Linked DNA regions of Homo sapiens. The protein of the gene in region 1 interacts with the protein of each later gene in a pairwise test. Each region holds a gene or a part of one and is shown on either strand. Other genes may lie near its edges.

Region 1 (3,751 bases):
CTAAGTCAAAATGGAATGGAAGTTTGTAGTATGTACTGTTGAAAACCAATGGGAGAGGATGGTGGGAGGGTTAGGTTGAAACATGGTATTCCAGTTATTATTGCTGTATAACAAAGTACCCCAGAATTTAGCAGCTTAAAACACCCATACTGTGGCCAGGCGCGGTGGCTCATGCCTGTAATCCCAGCACTTTGGGAGGTTGAGGAGGGCGGATCATGAGATCAGGAGATCAAGACCATCCTGGCTAACACAGTGAAACCTCATCTCTACTAAAAATACAAAAAATTAGCCGGGGCCGGGCACAGTGGCTCATGCCTGTAATCCCAGCACTTCGGGAGGCTGAGGCAGGCGGATCACAAGGTCAGGAGATCGAGACCATCCTGGCTAACATGGTGAAACCCCGTCTCCACTAAAAATACAAAAAAAAATTAGCTGGGCATGGTGGCGGGCGCCTGTAGTCCCAGCTACTGGGGAGGCTGAGGCAGGAGAATGGCGAGAACCTGGGAGGCAGAGCTTGCAGTAAGCTGAGATCGTGCCACTGAACTCCAGCCTGGGAGACAGCAAGACTCCGTCTCAAAAAAAAAAAAAAAAAAATTAGCTGGGCGTGGTGGCGAGCACCTGTAGTCCCAGCTACTCAGGAAGCTAAGGCAGGAGAATTGCTTGAACCCGGGAGGCGGAGCTTGCAGTGAGCCGAGATCACACCACTGTACTCCACCCAGCGTGACAAAGCGAGACTCTGTCTCAAAAAACAAAACAAACAAACAAAAAAAAAACACCCATATGATGCTCATGGATTCTGTGGGTGAGGGAATTTGGACCTGGCACCATGGGGAGGCCTCTCTCTGCTCCCTGATATGGGATGGAATGCAGGCTCAATGGCTGAGGGCTGGAATCATCTGAAGGCTCCTTCACTGATGCCTGGTACGTGGGATAGGATGATTCAAAGGTAAGGGCAGCCAACTGGAACACCAATATATGGCTTTTCTGTGTGGCTTGGCTTTCAGTGTTAGCCTCTGTGTAGTCAGGCTTTTTATGTGGTGGCTCGGGTCTCCAAGTGTGAGTGTATCAGTGACAAGATGGAAGTTGCATCACCTTTTATGATCTAACCTCAGAACACACCACCATTTTCTTTTGAGACAGAGTTTCACTCTTGTTGCCCAGGCTGGAGTGCAATGGCGCGATCTTGGCTCACTTCAACCTCCGCCTCCTGGGTTAAGCAATTCTCCTGCCTCAGCCTCCCAAGTAGCTGGGATTACAGGCATGGGCCACCACACCCAGCTAATTTTGTATTTTTAGTAGAGATGGGGTTTCTCCATGTTGGTCAGGCTGGTCTTGAACTTCCGACCTCAGGTGATCCGTCCGCCTCGGCCTCCCAAAATGCTAGGATTACAGGCATGAGCCACCACGCCCGGCCCACACCATCATTTTCATTGTGTTCTTTTGGTCCAAGCAGTCACAAGCCTACTCAGATTCAAGGGAGGGGAGGTAGATTTCACCTTTTAATGGATCAATGGCCAGATCAAATTGTAGACAAACATGTAAGACAGAAGATACTGTTGCAAACATCTTGGAAATACAGTCCGCCACATTTGGTAATAAGAAGGTAACCTTTTCAGTTTCATTGGCTTCCTTAAAATATTTAGGGTATAATCCCCAAGAGCTAACAGCATACTAAAAAAGTGGTTAGGGGCTGGGCGTGGTGGCTCATGCCTATAATCCCAGCACTTTGGGAGTCCAAGGCAGGCAGATCACATGAGGCCAGAAGTTTGAGACCAGCCTGGCCAACATAGTGAAACCCCATCTCTACTAAAAATATGAAAATTAGCTGGCCGTGCTGGCACGCCTGTAATCCCAGCTACTCAGGAGGCTGAGGCACGAGAATCTCTTGAGCCTGGGAGGCGGAGGTTGCAGTGAGCCAAGATCATGCCATTAGACTTCAGCCTGTGTGACACAGTGAGACTGTGTCTCAAAAAAAAAAAAAGAAAGAAAAAAAGTGGTTAGGTGTACCACTTGAAAACTAGTACTTTGTCCGTAAATAACCCTCAAACTGGAGAAATGTTCCCTTCTTTCAGCAATCTTATACTGTTCCTTCTGGAACAAGGTAGAATGCCACTCTTTGGAAGTTTCACGTAGCCTTGAGAAAAAGTAAATAAATACAAGGCAGTACTTTCCCTGAGTCCCTGTGTAGTCAATATGACTCCTCAAATCCCACTGCAATAACTCCTTCCAAATTTTGAGTGAAAACAAGTTGGTTAACTGCTGCCAGACATCTAAAGGAAATGCTCTTATAATCTTTTTGTATAAATAGTGATTTTGTGTTTAGGTTTTGGAATGGTTGTTTAATTATAAGATTTAGTGGAAGATACAGCCCTTCAGATTCTAACTGATGTGTTTTGAAGGAATGAAACTTCAACCATAAGCTGACTTTTAGTGCTGTAACTTAGTTCTGGGAAGAGCTGAGGATTGCCTGATCAAAATGCCCGTCTGTACTGGAAAGCGTTTTCTTCTGCTATTCTGATGGAAAACTACTTCTCATGCTCTCATTAATGTTATATTTGCAATGGAGTCATGTTGGCCTCTACCCCAGCACACTCTGATGCTGGGCTGGTGATAAGAGGCTTGTGAGCCTGAAATTGGATGCTGACCTTGTGGGACATTGATAGGACAGAGATGACATGGCAAGTACCAGCATCACGTCTCAGAAAATAGCTCCCAGAGGTTTGGAGGGAGTTTACTACAAGAAGATAATGGTCCTTGCCTCGGATATCTTCTGTGTGAGAGATACTGGAAATGGAATGCTTGACTGATAACTGAAGAAGGGAGAAAGTCCTATGGGAGTGGCCCCCAAATATCTCTAGAAGAGTCTCCACAAGGTTGCCCTTCATTTAGGCGAGAAATGAATCTTTTCTCTTATTTGGGTGAGAGCACAGGGATTCTTATAACTCGTCTGTCCTCATGGCTGGGACAGAGCCAGGGCGTAGAAGATGTCATTGAACCCTGCTCTGGTCAGGCCTAGCTGTTTTCACATTAGACCATTTCTGGGCTTTTGGTGTCTGTATCAAAAATCATTATGTTCTGGCTGGGCGCGGTAGCTCACGCCTGTAATCTAGCACTTTGGGAGGCCGAGGTGGGCAGATCACATGAGGCCAGGAGTTCAAGACCAGCCTGGCCAACATGGTGAAACCCTGTCTCTGCTAAAAATACAAAAAGTAGCTAGGCGTGGTGGCACACACCTGTAATGCCAGCTACTCAGGAGGCTGAAGCACGAGAATTGCTTGAACCCAGGAGACGAAGGTTGCAGTGAGCTGAGATCGAGCCACTGCACTTCCACCTGGGTGACAGAGTGAGAGTGTCTCAAAAAACAAAAAACAAAAAAAAAAAGGTGTTCAGGTCCCTCTGCTGAAGCTACTCAGCAAAGTCACCAGCACCAGTCTCCATTAAACAAACAAACAAACAAAAATCAGGCCGGGCACAGTGACTCATGCCTGTAATCCCAGCACTTTGGGAGGCCAAGGCGGGAGGATCACCTGAGGTCAGGAGTTCAAGACCAGCCTGGCCAACATGGTAAAACCCTGTCTCTACTGAAAATACAAAATTAGCTGGGCGTGGTGGCAGGGGCCTGTAATCCCAGCTACTTGGGAGGCTGGGGCAAGAGAATCGCTTGAACCTGGGAGGCAGAGGTTACAGTGAGCTGAGACTGCACCATTGCACTCCAGCCTGGGCCACAGGAATGAAACTCTGTCTAAAAAAA
Region 2 (3,751 bases), on another chromosome or scaffold:
CCCACTGATGGTTTTTGGGCTTAGCCCTAAGAAGACCCTGAAGCACATCTGCTGTTTGCCTAGTATAACTGATGATTAGCAAGAACATTTTACTCCCAAGGGATGTGTCTGCATTTTGGATGAATTAGCATTTTTGCGTCCAAATCCCGGGGCAGCTATTATCTTTATTTTAAACAGAACATGGCAATTTACTCTACTTGGGAATCAGGCTTTATGTAGCTGATGGCCTCTCCTAAGCTGTGGTGTTCATCAGTTTAAAAACTCTAGGAGTTGAAAGGAACGTTAGAGGTCATTTGGGTTAGCCTGCTCCCCAGTGCAGAAATATTTCTTACTTTATCCCTAACAAAAAATATGTGTTTAAACTTCACTGGTGGTGGAGATTTCCCTATGATATCCTTCAAGAAATGCACTTAATTGCTGTTTTATCTGTTGAGCTGAAGGAAATGGAAAACCAAGTTTCCATTTGCTCATTTAACACCATTTATTAAGCACCTGCTATGTGTCAGGAACTTGTTCTAGGTGTTGGGGATATAGCAGTGGACAAGTTTTCTTCTTACCAGGAGCTTTATTGTTTGAGAGATTTGGTGTATTAAAGTGACAGACTTCAGTGTAAATGTGTAAATCATTTAGGGAGAAAAGGAATTATATGCCTATTGCTGACTCAGCAAATATGATTCAGGTGAAGGATCATATCTGTCTGGGGATAATTATAGGCAATTCTTAAAGATGAGGGCAGGGAGTGTGGGAAGTGGAGGAGTACTGCCAATAAAATGTTACTTTCCCTTGTTATAAAATTGCCATTTTTGTGACTTGAAAATGTGGCCCCAGATGGATGGCTGTGGTCGGTGTGCCTGGAGAAACATGAATGGAGCCAAGAAAGGTCCAGGGGAGGGCCACCTAAACAATAAAGGGACTGTCATCTCAGGTCAGTTTTCAAAAATTAGAACTTTTTAGTCAGTGATATAAATTATACATACTGAGGCTCTATAAGCAGTTATTAAGGAATGCAAGAAGTTTCTGAGGTACAATAATCTCTCCTTTTAAAATCTTTCGAAAGTTATAGATTAATTTATCTTTTAAATTATCATCTTTAAAAATGATGTGTCTACATTACAGTGAAAAGGAGACCCAAGGAATTGATTAAAAGAACAAAACTGCCCATAACCCACTATCCTGATATAATAGTTCTTAGGTGTTTAGTCTATTTCACCACTTTTTTGAGCAGACATAACCCATCTTGTATAAACTGCCACCTAGAAACCAAACTGTGTGCCTGAATGAGTCCTGTGTGACCATTTGAATAATACTCTTAAAATGAAGGAAGTGGATGCTTAGTGTTTGGGCATGGGCCATCCTATGTCTGCAAAAGGAACAAATGATTGTGGGACTCTGCTGTTTCCTTGATTTGGATGGCCTACTTGATTGATTGCCAGCAGACCAAGTGTTTATATTCTACCCAATGATGATGTCACACTGATCATGATCATCGGATTTAGACTGTGGCGCAGCCCACAGAGTTTTCTGTGCCTGTGTTTCTCTTTATAGGACTCTAAATTTGGTTGGGGATAGACGCTGCTCTTGGATTTTATCATTTTATTGGGATCCATCTTTCATAGTCTTAGCTAGACCTGTCTCAAATGGGGTTAGCAAAGCTGAACCATTATTTAAATGAAACCCAACACATCTAAAGCTTCTATACTTTTTTCCAAGGAGATCTACTTTACAATATAATTGATAACCTCCCCCGCCCCCTTTTTAAAAATCTGGATTGACAGAAAACTCTCAAATAACAATACTTCCCCTGACCCACTCATGCCTGCTGGCAGCCCATCAATGCAGCAGCTGTTGAACATAAAAACAATACTTGGGCTAAGGTAATAGAGACAGACTTCTAAAAGGAATTTGCTGGGCGATCTAAAATGAAATTCACATTGTTCCAGGCTTGACCTGAGATAGAAATCAGGAGTCTGTTCCCTGATATGACAAAGCCAAGGCACCAGAGCCACCTCTTTTTAGGATCGACGCCAATGAGTGTGAGCACATCGCTCAAGCCAAATGGCACAGGAAGTCCAGTTCTGTGGACACATTCTGCCCACCTGCTGAACTGTGACTGGGTAGGATGGAGTGTGAAACATTGAGAGAGGGGTAGGCTGAGGTGGTGAGGTGGGAAAGAGACCATATTCTAAAAGGACCATTTTTCTGACAAGTGGGAGCTTTGTTTGTTCTTGTCTGTGTGTGATTTCTTTTTTATTTATTTATTTATTTTTTTTTGCATTTTTATTGTACAAAAAGGAAATGAAAATATATATAGCATAACATTAAAATTTACCTACTTGTTTTTGATAATAACATTCCTTTGGGAAGAATTGATTTTTTTTCTCTTATAGAAGTTGAGGCACAATAATGTGGATAGGTTAGAGATTGAAAAACAAAATAATCCTCAACACCCTAACACATCAGTACTCATTCTTGCCTTTCCAACCCACCTGTTTTATCAGACATTTCTTGTGTACCTTCTATATGCAGGTGCTGAAATTATGTTGGTGAGTACTTGACTGCAGTCTTTGCTGCTCTCATGAAATCTCTCTATAGGCTGAGTAAGCAATAGGATTTAGCAAGGAAAGGGAGATGGGGAGGTGGTTGTGGAAGTGTTCCAAGCCCAGGAAACAGCATGTGCCAAGCTCTGGAAGTGAGGGAGAGACTCTTAAGAAATCCAATGTAGCAGGAACGTCAGCCTTAGGGTTGGGTAGGGAGAGTGGACAGACAAGAGGCTGAGGAGGTGGGAAGAGACTCAGTTGTGCAGTGCATTCTTTATAGGCATGTATTTACTGTGTAGCTCTTTAAATGCTTTATATTCCATCCACCCTTTGCCCATAACTTAAGATATCTCAGATCCTTGAAATTGGTTGAAGGAAGACAAAGAAAATCTGCAGACTACTAATTCTTCAGGATTCAATAGGAGAGTTGAGAAACGATCAGGGGAGTTGATTCCTTTCATGCCCAAATTGAACCCTTAAAGAATAGAGGAAATGAAGACTGACAGAGGACACAGAGAAGGAGAGTCCAGTGACAACATATGACAACGACAATGCTAGATCTTCCTCTGCCCAGTTTTATGCATTGAGCCTTTCCTCAGGATTCAGAACTAGAAGTTATTATTTTCTTAGACCTAAGCAACTGAGTCCTGAAGAGTGTGGTGGGGCTGGGGGGGAAGATGGTAGGACTCTTTCCACCTTGGACTTCAAGTGGCAATCAGTGTTCTCCAAAAAGGAAATTAAAAACTCATTGGATTTTATGAAAACAGGAGAAGAGTCTGTTAAAAGCCAGGGTTTACTTAAGACTTCATGCTGTTTTAGTTATCTCATCTCTTTGAGTACTGTCTTCATACCAGTATAAATTTTGTGAATCTCATTAAGGTACTCATTAAACTTACTCTGACCTGCTGTTGGAGGGCAAAAGGCTTGACCAAAAACTTCTGTGCACGGGAAGCTTGTTCAGCATCTTGATTTTCAAATTTATTCAATTCAAATTACTGTCAAGACAATTATCTCACCTTATACTCACAAAATACCTGAGAAGTAATATAGAGAAGGAAAATGAGACAGGAAGAAGTTGTCAGTTAATCTGCTACAGCAAATTTGTGGGAGAGCTAGGCTTTGGAACCAAAGGCTTTTAGACCAACATGCATACAGACCTCCCATCTGATTCAGTCAGTTAAGCTAAATTATGTTGCGGTAACAAATTGGCCCCA

Evidence for each region. The genes of interacting proteins can lie anywhere in the genome.
Region 2: the proteins of MORN4 (region 1) and SEPTIN11 interact in binary tests that used the Homo sapiens proteins (3 or more experiments, as listed by UniProt).

Annotation. Positions count from the first base shown.
Region 1 is NC_000010.11:97,626,769-97,630,519, reverse strand, and holds part of MORN4 (MORN repeat-containing protein 4), read left to right. Parts: intron 1-3,751. UniProt on the Homo sapiens protein: Plays a role in promoting axonal degeneration following neuronal injury by toxic insult or trauma.
Region 2 is NC_000004.12:76,952,722-76,956,472, forward strand, and holds part of SEPTIN11 (septin-11), read left to right. Parts: intron 1-3,751. UniProt on the Homo sapiens protein: Filament-forming cytoskeletal GTPase. May play a role in cytokinesis. May play a role in the cytoarchitecture of neurons, including dendritic arborization and dendritic spines, and in GABAergic synaptic connectivity.